2 linked regions of the Homo sapiens genome follow. The protein of the gene in region 1 interacts with the protein of each later gene in a biochemical or structural test. Each region holds a gene or a part of one and is shown on either strand. Other genes may lie near its edges.

Region 1 (7,041 bases):
CTTCCTAACCACCTATTTAAAATAGCATTCCCAGGAGCCCTGTGTCTACTTACCCTGCTGCTTGTCTTCAGAACTGCCAGACACACATGTGTGTGTGTCCGTTGCTTGGAGTGTATATCTCTCTTGCTTTGAGTGTCATTTTCACCAGGACAGGGGTGGTATCTATTTTGTTAGTGGACAGACATCACTGGAGTGGTGCTTCCCTTGTGCTCATATCAGAGCCTGGCAGACAGTAGGCACTCAATAAAGAGATGTTTCAATTAACAAATATTGTTTAGATTAATGATAATAGGAAAAGTGTTCAAGGCAGAGGAACTAGCCCAGGCAGGAGTCTGTGGGGCTGTCAGTACAAGTCTCTGAGGTATGCAAGAGGTTGGGCCTTGATCCTGAGGATGAAGATGGGAGCATAGCCCTGAAAAAGGTTCAGGACAGGCTTGGCATGGCCTGTTTTGTATTTAGTAAGATTACATTGAAGATTTCAGTACATTGTGTTCTCTGACAATGTTTAGTAGCATTAATTACTCTGACATGTTTTGGCTTTTGACATGAAGAAATGTACCTTTGTTTTAATACTTGTTTCTCTTTCCTCCTTCTAGTTCTCTTTCAACATGTTCGACCACCCTATTCCCAGGGTCTTCCAAAACCGCTTCTCCACACAGTACCGCTGCTTCTCTGTGTCCATGCTAGCAGGGCCTAATGACAGGTCAGATGTGGAGAAAGGAGGGAAGAGTATGTGCTTGTTTTTATTTGAATAGTAACTTTTCCTGCCCTAAGTCTGCAATGCTGTAGCCTTCAACAGTACTTACTTTGCATGTGGGAGTCAGAAGCTAGTGTTACTGTGAAAATGGTGCTGGGATTTATCCCTGACTTGCTCTGTTGGGGTGGGGTGCTAATTATGGTTAGGTTTATGGCTGATAACCATTCAGTTCCCAAAATAAATTACATCAAGTAAGATTCTTCATGAAAGATCACTGGGACATTCTGGCTACCCTAAAAACAGTTTAAGGCTTTTTGTTAGATATAAAGAAACTGCATCTTGCCTTTGGTCTGTCCTTTTTATTTTTATTTTTTAATATTTCTTAAATGTTCTTTCCACAGTAATTATGCCACCCTCGGCCCTGGACCAACTCAGTAAGTATCTTCTGAGTGACTTAAGGACTTAGATAATGTACATATGGACACCAAGAGTCAGCATGGGCTCCTCAGTACATCCAGACACCAGTGCCCTTTGTCAGCATCTGGTTGTGAATTGTCCGTGGAGGGCATGCGCTGGGCTGGGAGAACCTGGGTCACAGGTACCTAGGGCGAGGCCAGGGCCCCCTGAACCTCAGCTTCATCACTGCCCTGGGTGCTTCAGGTTCCTCCTCTGTGAAGGGGGTTCCCTTTCCCTTCCTGATCACCACCTCCACCCACCCCCCAACTGTTCTCAGTATTCTGTCAGGATTAAGTGAAGGTACAAGTATCAAGTGCTTTGTACCGTGCCAGGGCAGCTGATGCCATTGGCTGGGCTCACTAGATTTTTTTCCTAAAGGAAGAATTGGTCAGCTCACAAGAGGGCGCTGTGAGCAGGTTCCTCATCCCCTCACCAAACATCTTTCCTGAGCTCCAGACCCCCATTTCTTTTCTTTTATTTATTTATTTATTTATTTTTTGAGACAGAGTTTTGCTCTTAGCGCCCAGGCTGGAGTGCAGTGGCGCAATCTTGGCTCACTGCAACCTCTGCCTCCCAGGTTCAAGTGATCCTCCTGCCTCAGCCTCCCGAGTAGCTGGGATTACAGGCACCCGCCACCACGCCCGGCTAATTTTTTGTATTTTTAGTAGAGATGGGGTTCCGCCATGTTGGGCAGGCTGGTCTTGAACTCCTGACCTCAGGTGACCTGCCTGCCTCGGCCTCCCAAAGTTATGGGATTATAGGCGTGAACCACCATGCCCGGCCCAGACCCCCGTTTCTAATCTCCAGTGCACCAATGCATCCTCAGCATGTCAAAAACTGAGCTATTGTCTTCCATCCAGAAGCCACTCCTCTTGCTGGGCTCCTGCCTCTTACCAGGAGTGAGATAGGCCCACAGGGGTTCTAAGAGTGGCCACATTCTTCCTCCCTTTTCTCTGACCCCTTATCCCATGAGAGCAACCTGGAAACCCATGCCCTAGCCCCATACTACACAGGCACAGAAAATCCCTATCATGGACAACCCAATCAAGGATGCAGTCATTGCCTTCCAGACTTAAAGAGTGTTTCTGGTGTGAATTCTTCCTGTGTGAGGCAGGAGACTGGGGTTGGCCAGGAGGACAGGTTCATGCTTGGTTTTGGGGGCCTCTGGTGGCAGCAAGCAGAGAACAGGTGCTGGCTGTGGTGTGACTCACCTCGGGCTCTTTGCCCAGCCTGACTCCAGAGTAGCAACTTGACCTCTCTGAACCTCAATGTCCTCTTCTTTAATTGGGGATATCTACAGTGTCTGTGCATCAGAAGTACTGTAGTGTCTGTGACAACCTAAGCTATCCGATTCCAACCACAAGGTGGAGGTAGCCCCTGAGCCAGCACTGGCTGTGGCTATACCCAGTGGAGGCCTCAGCTCAACCAGTAGGTCAACAGAGCTATGGAGTTCACAGTTCTCACGAAGACCCTGTCATTACAGAGGAGAGAACAGGCTCCCTAAAAAGGTCTTCCTTTCAAGTCATGCTGACCCAGGAGCCAGACACCAGGGGTGACCCTTGGCACAGGTGTCCAGAAGAGACTCAGGGGCTGGGTCATTGAGGTGTAGCTCAGATCAGTGTTGTTCAAATCTTTTAAGTGATGGGAGAAACTCTTTCTGTCTAAATCTTATAGGAAGTCCTCTAATTCATAAAATGAGGTTCTCTGCTTTTTTTGGAGAAAGTGAGGGGGTACAGAGGGACTGGGAGCCCCAGGGCACTGGGAGCCTCTAAGTCACAAAATGCAGTTTGAGAGTCAGTGGACTGAGGGACATTGGAGTCTCTTTCACTTGCAACAATCTCAGACCCTTGGCTGAGCCCAGTCCAGTTTACTGTGGACCAGCTGTATGTCAGCTCCATGGCTGTGCAGCTGAGAGGTGGACCGGGACAGAGGTCCTGGCCCCTTTACTGCCAGTGTGAGAGTCACCCTTGGTGATAGGAGGGAGTGCCCACCCTTACTGTACCTCCATGCTACTCTCAGAGGTTCTCTGTAGCTTCCTGCCCAAGCTTTTAACTTGATTTGCTTTATTAGAATTTTTAGGGAGATCTCAAATGGAATCTGCGTTACTTCCTAACACTAAGTGTGATTTTTATTGGAATATTTGTCTGAACTAACAAGCTAAATTCTGCTTTGATGGTTGAATCCCTGGACTTAAGCCAGCAGCCTTGGTTTGAATCCTGGCATCACCACTTGTGTGCTGTGAGGTCTTGTGTGCTCACCACTTGTGTGCTGTTACTTAACCTGTGGGCCTTAGTTTCCCCATAGATAAAAGGGGATAATGATAGTACCTACCTGACTGTTCTGGGAAGACTGAACAAGGGCCTTACACATGGCAAACACCATCACTACCATCAGTTCCTTCTCGGTCTTCTCCCGGGGGCCCAGTGTCTCCTGGGTTTTCCTGCCTCTTTTTGCCAGCCCTTCCTTTATGTGCCTGTGCACCTCTTGGGTCAGCACGTCACCAGTCCAGCTTACTTGCCTCTGGCCTTGCTTTCAGCCCACACCTCAAGGTCCATCAGAGAGAGGGGGCGTCCTATGTCATGACCCTGCTGAGAGCTCACACTGCCCGCTGGGCCCAGGCCCTAGGTTCTACCCCGTGTGGTGCCCCTCCCCTTCCCAACCACTCGCACACCTGTCCCCAGCCTGTCTTGCCTAATTATCCACCATTTCTGAACTGCCTGGGCTCCTCTTCCCTTCCACGCCTTTGCTCAGGCTGCCACCTCTGCCTGGATTTCCTCCCAGGTCTGCCCGCCCAGTGCCCAGCCTAAAGAACTCGGCCTCTAGGAGCCTAGCCCAGTAGCTCTGCCCCCTCCTGCCAGCTCTTCCCACAGCACCTGCAGCATCTGGTTGTGGTTTTCTTTGTTGGAAGGTTTCTACCTTCAAACTAGAAACCTTTGAAGGTCGGGATTTTGTCCAGGGCATGGTGGGCACTGAAATTATTTATGAATAAATGAATGAACACATCACTTTTTAAAATGTTGACTTCAGAAAATCACAAGTCTATGCCAGTGCTGTGTTACCAAGTTGCCAGGTTCCTCCTTGAGCCGTGCACTGTGCTCTCACAGAGGGGGATTCATCTGCCAGAGGAGTGTGGGGTTGAGGGCAGGATTGTGGGGAGGCTCCTTCTATGGGAAGGCGTGGGCCGAACAGGTGTCCCTTCATAGGAGCTGTGCCTCATAGTCTCTCTCTTATTTTCAGGCCGACTTAACATTACCTATCCCATGCTGTTCAAACTGACCAATAAGAATTCGGACCGCATGACGCATTGTGGCGTGCTGGAGTTTGTGGCTGATGAGGGCATCTGCTACCTCCCACACTGGGTGAGTGGGGCTGCCAGGGTCTCTAGAGAGCAGCCACTTAGGCAGAGACATCTCCTGCACTCGAGAGTCCTGGCCCTGGAGCAGGTGGCCCCGCCTACTCCTCCTGCTCAGCGTCTTAGCCTGAGCCGACCCAGCGAGAGAGAAGGGATCCAGAGCAGTGCACTGTGCCTTATGCGGGCTGGTGGGCTCTGGACGCACCTGTGGGCCACTGTGCTGTGGGAGTGGCCTTTTCTTTGATAGTTGCGCAGCTGAACTGTTCATCTGTGATTTCCTGGGTGAGGCGTTTTTAAAAATAATGGAGCAACAGTATTTTTTAGGTGGTCTAGTAAGTAGGGTGTTTGAGGTTTTTATGCTTTTCCCCTACTTTTAGTAGTCTGTCACAGCATACATGTTTTCAGTTACCTCTGACGTAGTCTCCCAAATCTCTCAACTGAGCTGCCATGGGAGTGACGTCTTTTTCCTTACAAGCAGGCTCTCTTTGGAAAGTTGACTTGAAGGATGTCATTGCAGATCTGGGCTGGGATATCCAGGGCGTGTGAGCCACCAGAGCCTGCCCTCAAGGCTGTACCCCTCAGAGAAGTGAGCAGAACTGTGCCAGTGCTGTAGGGAGGAGCCTGCAGCAGTGAGAGTTCCACACAGGTAGCTGTGGCCCACTTGGCTCCTTCTTCTCCTCACTCCTCTCCCCAGCTCTGGCACATTAGGGAAGTTCACAAAGGGACCTGCTTGTCCTTCTCTTTGTGCTTGGATTACATCAGGCATACTGAGAGACCCCGCAGTGAGCTGTGGGCTGGAAACTCTCAGGAGTGCTTGCTTGGCTGCCACCAGGGAGGTGGTCTGAAGCACAGCCCACCTCTCCTGCTGATGCCCTATCATGGTGGCCGCCAGACGTTCAGAAGGGATGGCCTTAACTAATATTTTCTGAGATTAAATATGAATTGAAATTCTGGCCAGGTACGGTGGCTCACGCCTCTAATCCCAGCACTTCGGAAGGCCAAAGTGGGCAGATCACTTGAGGTCAGGAGTTCGAGACTAGCCTGGCCAACATGGTGAAACCCCGTCTCTACTAAAAATACAAAGACTAGCCGGGTGTGGTGGCACGTGCCTGTAGTCCTAGCTACTTGGGAGACCGAGGCAAGAGAATGGCTTAAACCCAGGAGGCTTAGGTTGCAGTGAGCCGAGATCATGCCATTGCATTCCAGCCTGGGCGACAGAGCGAGACTCCATCTCAAAAAAAAAAAACAACAATAATATGAATCAAAATTCTGAAGGTCTCTTTCCTGCTGTAGCAGGTGACCTTGCCCATGCTGCCATGGTAGTGGCATCCTCTTCAGCCTGGGTCCCAGGGTCCTTCCCAAGGTCTGGGCCTGGCCAGTGTCTCCCCGACAAGAGCCCTGCACTCCCATTGCACCTCCTAGTGCCTGGCCTTCCCATGCTGCCTCCTCACCTCAGCTGACTAGGCCTGCCCAACCTGGCCTGTTGGGGGGCTTTTATGCCTCAAAGCCCAGATTGGCTCACCTGCCCTCCCCAGTATTTGCTGCTCAGCCCCTTGCTATTCTTGTGTTTGTCTGCAGGTGCCCCCAAGGGCCTGAGGCCACATTGTGCTCATCCGGTAGAACACCTGGTCACTGAAGCCACTCTAGGTAGCTGAAGTGTCAGGCAGTGACTACTTCCCCAGTCCCTTCTGTGGCTCACCTATAAGAGGAGGTGGTGATGCTGGGGATACACTGTATCTCGAAGGTTCTCCTTTAACCCATAGACTTGAAGTTTGGGTGGCCTCTTGTCCAAGCTGTTGGACTGCTTTAGACCAGGAAACTAATTGAACCCTTTCTCCCCTGGAAAGCCTCTTTAGGTAGCCTGGAGCTGGTTTGGGGTGTGAAGCCATCAGGCCACCTCTTCCCCTGAGCTGGCCTTCCAGCTCCTGGCATGGGCAGGCGGGTGACAGGTATACCCCATCTGCTGTCTTGGAGGGCATGTGAGCCAGTGCTTTTTCTGGGCTGGCTGGTGGACTCCATCCCACCCATGCTCCCAAGCTTCTTCAGGGCGAGCCAGCCTGGAATAGGTACTGGCCTTTTTCCTTGTAGCCAAGGCTTCGTCTGCTGACCTAGATCCGAGCCCTGGACTAGCCGTTTGTGACATGTGGGTACTCGGCTGCCCGTTGTGCTGTATGCTCTAAAATGCTGCATGGGGAGGGCCAGGCATCAGCTCCTCCTGCCTGCTTAGTGCTCTCAGGCCTCTTCCAGCAGCCCATTTCTCACCTCAAGCCCTAGTCTGACCTCTCTGCCTGTCCTCCTCACATCACCTATGGCAGTGTCCTGCCTCTGGCTGAGGAAGCCACCCCCCATCCCTGGCCAGCCTTCCCTCAGGCTTGCAATTGCAGCCCAGTATCCTTCCCCTCGCTGACAAATTTCCCACAAAAATCTACCCAGGGACAGTGCGCCTGGCCTGCGACTGGCTAACTCTGAGCCTTAGAATACTTCCTGTTAGAACATCACTCCTGGGGATGCCAGACCCCCGTTACCAAAGCCAGTC
Region 2 (6,179 bases), on another chromosome or scaffold:
GCCCTGTGCAGCGGGGCTGGAGCTGGGGGAGACTGGCCACTGAGAGGTAGAGCACGTAATGGGGGCATGAGACAGGCCTGGTGCAGCTGAAGGGGAAGCAAAGGGAGCTGGCGCTGTGGGCACTCCAGGGCCACACCAGGAGGTTCTCCTGTGATAGAGACAGGCCATGAGTCTACAGATGTCTTCATCCCTGGAGATGTTTCCAGCAGCCACTCTGTTCTGCCTGCTCCTACTGTGGGGCCTGTGGAGTCTGGTTCCACAATGATGATGCTTTTGTTTTCCTAAGAGATGAGGCCGCTTTCCTGCTGTGGGGAAAATGCAGGGAGGCGCCTGTTGCCTGGGCTGGGCAGGAGGCAGGATCAGGTCTCTGGAAGGAAGGAGTCTGTTTTCTCCCCCGTCCTCGCTGCTGCTGATGGTGGGGCTGGTCTCCCTGGGAGAATGTAGCAAGTCACTTAACTTTGTTGAAAGCTTTCTGTCTCCTTGTTGGGAAAATAATGAGGTTGGATTAAATTCCTGGTTTTCAAACTTGCTTTGTTGTTGTTGTTTTTAAGCAGCAAAATCCCCTTTTTAAATGACATTTTTATGGGGATACTAGTTTACAAAATAAATTGGGAACTCTCCTGATTGGCCCTGGGTGGGAGAGGTGAAGAGACTAGAACCCTCTGCAGCCGTCCTGCGCTCCTGCAGCAATAGCAGGCAACTCTGAGAAACAGGGTTGAGAACCAAGAGGTTAGATGACCTTTGTCTCTGGGCACTCTGTGGGTTCCGAATGGAATGACAGGCCTCAGAAGGCCCTGGAGTCCTTGCTCCCCAGGCTGTGGGGGGCGGGTCACCAGCTTTGGCATTGCCCAGGAGCCCCTGATTCCACATCACATTTTAACTTGAATCCCTGGGCGATTCATCGAAGGCTGGAAGGCCTTCCCACCGCGTGCAGAAGCTCTCCTACCCGGTTCCTACCTGGTTCCTAGAAGAGAATCCATGCACCTCACACCCGCGACCTCTGCAGTGGGAGTGCTGGGTTGGCGAGCAGCCCATCCTGATGCCGGATGGTGGATGGCGGGGCTGGCGAGGCACCTCCTTCCTGCCCCACGGGCATCTCACTTCCACTGCCTGCCTCAGAAGCAGCACTTCCACCACCCCTCTGCCTCTGTGGCACCTCTGCCATTTGGCTGGGTGAGGAGAGGTAGAAAGAGGGCCCCCTGTGCTTTGCTTTGGTTTTTTGGCTTTGCCTGGAAATGCGGAGAATCCTGCAGAGCGCAGACTGAGAGGCTGTGAAATCTCAGTCCCTAACTTGGGATGGGACTTTGCTGTTTTCCTAAAGGAACTGGCCCAAATAAGGAAGGAGGAAAAAGAGAAGAAAAGACGCCGCCTCGAGAACATCAGGTTTCTGAAAGGGATGGGCTACTCCACGCACGCGGCCCAGCAGGTACTCCACGCAGCCAGCGGGAACTTGGATGAGGCCCTGAAGGTAGCAGCTCCCTCGGGGCCTCTGGCCTTGTCCCTGAGCAGTGGGTCCTGCCCAGAGCTCCCTCCATGGCTCTCCAGCATCCTCCCGGGCTCACTCCTATGGGCTGCCCCGTCATCCGGATCTGAAGGGCAGGTTTCTCCTGGGCTCCAGCCCAGACACAGGCTGCGTGAGGCCACGTGAGGCCCCATGCTCAGTGCTTGGCCCAGGCCTGGCTCCAAAACGTGGTGCCTGTCCACACCAGCACAGTCCACAGGCCAGGACTTTGTGTAGGGTTTCTGTGTGCAGCAGAGTTTAGTGAAACAGGCAGTTTCCACGGCAGAAAAAAGAGAATGGGAATTCAACTTGTAGTATAATTGTTTGGCATTAAAATTTTAAATGTAAGTATCTAGTTTTATTTATTTAGTCCATCGTACATGTTGGCAAAGGGAGAGCTTTTCAAAGAACCCCTCAGGAGTGACAGCAGGTTGGGATCCAGACAGCAGTGACTTTACCTGGGCCACTTCCTTCCCTGTGTTGGAGAAGCATATCGAATCCTCAGTAGGGCAGGTGCTGCGCTGCGTCTCAGCAGCTTGGCATGGAACCACCCTCTGCCCTCTCGGCCCCGCAGGTCAGTGAGAGACAAACTCAGAGCACACGTGGTGAGGGGTCCCGAGGGGGTGCACAGGAGGCAGGGGGCTGGCTGTGTGGAGGCAGCAGTCCAGACAGATGCTGGGGCAGCGCGGCGGGCAGGAAGCAGAGTGGTAGGAGCTGGCTTAGGTTGTGCACGTGCTGGGGGCGGGGCTGGGGGGACAGAGATGGGGTTGGAGGGGGTGGGGTGCAGGGCAGGTGTCCTCGTTTGCCCTGCTGAGGCGGGTGTGGGTGCAGCAGGCACGGGGAGTCCACCCTGCCTTTGCCTCTTATCCCTGCCCTGTTCCCCGGAAGGCTCCACAAGTCAGTACTTTTGTAACTATGTACATGTATATTTAACATATACGTTAAATTTTAAATTTTTATTTGAATATCATCTAGTTCGTTTTTTTGTGTGTTGGAGAAATATTAAGAGGTGGGAAATTCTGAATATTCGAAGGGACTGATGGGTCTCAAAATAGATGTGAATTATACGAGTGGCACAAAAATACTTCCAGTCAAAATGGAAGTACTGAGTGTTGGAAAGGAAAGTCTCCACAGGGTCTTTGAAGATTAAGTATTGTGTGATGAAGAAATCAAGGGTCAAAATAACCCTACTACCTGCCTGACATTTTAAGTCTAGAGGGCATGACGCTTTCAAAGATCAATCAGGCAGCCCTGAGCTGCTTGAGACCTTTCTGTCTGTAGCTCTGACAAAACCTGTTTTCTTGGATGCTGCTTCCACCTGCTCTCCATCCCTTCCTGCTCTAACAGAAGGGATCTTTTCCCTGACTAGTCTTGCTCCTCCTTCAAACCCCAGCTGTCCTGGTCTCTGGCTGGAAGCCTTCTGTGAACACCAGCCTGAGTGGGAGCCCCTTTCTCTGCCTCATAGCAGCAGAGGACGGCGGGGTCTGCCTAGCACATGGCAGGGTGCAGCGCCTGTCTGAATGTGTGAAGAGTTCTTAGTGATGGGTAAAGGGTGTTCCTGTGTGTTTTAGATTCTGCTCAGCAATCCTCAGATGTGGTGGTTAAATGATTCCAATCCTGAAACCGACAACCGTCAAGAAAGTCCTTCCCAGGAAAACATTGACCGAGTGAGTGACAGGCCTTTGTGCCCTCAGCTTGGACAGCCTCGGGTGGGGTTGCTTGGGGTAACCCGGGTGAATCAGGCAGCAGGACTGGGGGAGTCCGTGCTGAAACCTTGGCTCCCAGGCTCCAGGTGTAACCTGCCCACCTCAGAGGCCACCCACGCAGTAACAGAGGGCAGGGGAGGCCTCCTTGGAAAGCAGGAAAACTGGGGAAGTGTCAGGAAGTTCTCTTTAGGTTTGCTGCCTTTGTCTATGCACCACTGTTTGCATCAGCCTCATTTCTCTGCCTGTGACCTAAAAGGATGGCACTGTGACCTGGGAAACCCATCCAGCTTTGTATCCCAAGTGACGGCTCTGTCCACATTTGTGCCCCTACACGCGTTAGCACGCCTGTATGCTGTGGCCACTGACCTCGCGGTGCTCGTGGTGAGGCTGGTGTGGCGCCCTGCTCTCAGCCCGAGGTCACTGCCTGTCCTGAGATGGCTGCTCCCTGACGCACCCGACTTGAGTCTTCCAAGCCCCCTTCCAGGTTGCTCTACGCTCACATTGCACAGAAGCATGACTTGTGCACAAAGGGCCATGGTGCACACGCCGGGAGCTCTTAAACATGAGAGTCGGCTGTCCACTCGTATGGCTGACGGGGGTGGCAGAAGAGGCGCCAGGGGCTGATGCTGTGACCCCTGCGCTCTCCCCTAGTTGGTGTACATGGGTTTTGATGCACTCGTGGCCGAAGCTGCGCTGAGAGTGTTCAGAGGCAACGTCCAGCTGGCCGCCCAGACCCTTGCTCACAACGGAGGAAGCCTGCCTCCCGAGCTGCCGCTGTCGCCAGAAGACTCTTTGTCCCCGCCAGCCACGTCCCCTTCTGACTCCGCAGGTAGGTCTGAGGTCTTTGAGGGCCGCATTGAGAGCAAAGTGTCTTCAGAAGCCAACAGATGTGGCCCTAAGCCACGGCAGATGTGGAGACTGAGGGGGCGTCCCCTGACGTCACCGGGCCGGCCACCTGGACAGTGTGGCCAGCAAGAGGCACAGTCTGAGGTTGACTGTGGTCGTGCAGTGTCCCCAGGACAATCCTCACATAATTCACTTACTCCTGCGGTATTTTATTGTAGGAACCTCTAGTGCCTCAACAGACGAAGACATGGAGACAGAGGCCGTCAATGAGATACTGGAAGACATTCCAGAGCATGAGGAAGACTATCTTGACTCAACTCTGGAAGATGAAGAAATTATTATTGCAGAGTACCTATCCTATGTAGAAAATAGGAAGTCAGCAACAAAGAAAAACTAAATAATGAACAGAAATAGCGCTAATTTTCTGCTTATAAATGCTATCATTATGAAAAGGCTAATGCAGCTCTTTCTGTTCTTACTTTTTATCTGAATTACAAGTCCTCTTTGGGTGTAGGAGGGGGTGGGCAGGGGACAAGTCCAGGAGGGGTCCCAGGGCCTTCATGCGTGGTCTCGGGGAAGAAGCTTCCTCTGGCCTGGCGCAGGCCGTTCCATCTGCCTCCCAGGTCTGCGTCCCTAACCCCTTCCCCAGCTTGGTGTTTTACCCCGAAACAGGAAGGAACAGGGGTCCTGTAGAACAGGGGTCCTGGGGAAGGTGTCCAGGGCAGGGTCCTGGGAAGGGTGTCCCGACCGCTTCCTCTCCAGCTGTGGCTCCATCTGCCCAGCTTGCCTGCCTCCTGCACCCACTGCCCTGACCTTCCTGCTTCCCACGCTGCCATCTCTGCCAGGGTGCCACATGGGTTCCTGTGCCACCCTTTCCCCGCCCCTCAAATCGTCCTTTAAGTCTTCCTTCCAAGTGCTGTGGGGCATAACGATGAGGCGCTGGCCTTGGGGGCCACACCAGGTCGCAGCAAATGGCTTCAGCCTGGGACGCCAGTGTTTTATGCTCTTAGTTCAGTAAAATACGCCCCCGAAATTCAAGATTGAGTGTCAGGCTTTATATATATTCAGCATTCCTCATTACAGAAATCTTCTATTGAATGGGAAAGGTTTAAATGCTAACCAAAGCAATTTATTTTTAATTAATATTTTTAGACTCTGTGCTGTCATACTGAACTCACTGCTAGCTAAGAGACCTATCAGAGATTTAGATATATTTTCTCCAGGTTTTTTGTGGGTTTTCTTTGTTGTTGTTGTTGTTCTAGCCATGTGACAGAGGCTCTTTCTAAAAGTATGTAGTTCGCTGTGTGTCGGCTCCAGCAGTAACCGTCCTCACTGCGCCACGCACTCCTCTGTAGATGTGTGCCCAGTGGGAGTTCCTTCCAGCCCCAGGACCACAGCAGCAGCCAGGTGCCGAGTGGATTGAGTGCCAGGTGCATCCAAGACTTTCCCTCCCTTCCAGAAGGCACTGACTGAAGACAGGATGGATCATGCGGAGCCGGCTGAAATGCTCCAACTTTTTCAAAGTGTGGGTGGTCCAGTTTGGACTGATGGGAATCTTCTTGTCATTCTTTTTAAACGGATGATACCGATGGAAATAAAAGGTGGGAAATATATTCAAAAATTGTCACCCTAATTTTGCATTAATTTACTCAGCCTCCCCAGCTGTAGGTGTTGAAAGTGTCTGGGTGACTAGCTCTTCATTTTGATTGCAGGATGTCTGTTTCCACTGAGTTTTGTGAGGAGATGATGGAAGGATGATCTCAGAAGCAGAGGGCATCTGCTGTGAAAGATGCCGCACGCCAAGCGGGGCTGGGGTGCATCCTGGGCAGGGGACTGAAATGTACCTGTCAGGGTTTGCCTCAGAAGTGCCTGGTGAGCTGAGGTGACGCGGAGTCTCAGCCTCATTTGACACAATGCCACACTTGGATTTGGGGCCTGAATTTAAGCTTTTGGCTAACAAATCGCTGTCCTGCGCTTGGTTCAGGCGTGTCTTCTAGCTTCCCAGCTGTTTTTAGCCATCATAGAAGCAATGCCACACCAGCAGGCCCCAAAACTCTTCCGTGTCTTGTGAAGAGAGAGCCGCAGAGGAAGCCGGCTGTGGAGGCAGTTCTGGGCATGCGCTATGT

What was found. The genes of interacting proteins can lie anywhere in the genome.
Region 2: the proteins of UFD1 (region 1) and NUB1 form a complex in vitro, tested with the Homo sapiens proteins (one study listed by BioGRID).

The regions. Positions count from the first base shown.
Region 1 is NC_000022.11:19,469,158-19,476,198, reverse strand, and holds part of UFD1 (ubiquitin recognition factor in ER-associated degradation protein 1), read left to right. Parts: intron 1-595; exon of another isoform or gene 596-596; coding exon 597-729; intron 730-1,098; coding exon 1,099-1,131; intron 1,132-4,390; coding exon 4,391-4,512; intron 4,513-7,041. UniProt on the Homo sapiens protein: Essential component of the ubiquitin-dependent proteolytic pathway which degrades ubiquitin fusion proteins.
Region 2 is NC_000007.14:151,372,776-151,378,954, forward strand, and holds the end of NUB1 (NEDD8 ultimate buster 1), read left to right. Parts: exon of another isoform or gene 1-1,321; coding exon 1,322-1,468; exon of another isoform or gene 1,469-3,072; coding exon 3,073-3,168; exon of another isoform or gene 3,169-3,858; coding exon 3,859-4,036; exon of another isoform or gene 4,037-4,271; coding exon 4,272-4,450; 3' UTR 4,451-5,674; downstream 5,675-6,179. UniProt on the Homo sapiens protein: Specific down-regulator of the NEDD8 conjugation system. Recruits NEDD8, UBD, and their conjugates to the proteasome for degradation. Isoform 1 promotes the degradation of NEDD8 more efficiently than isoform 2.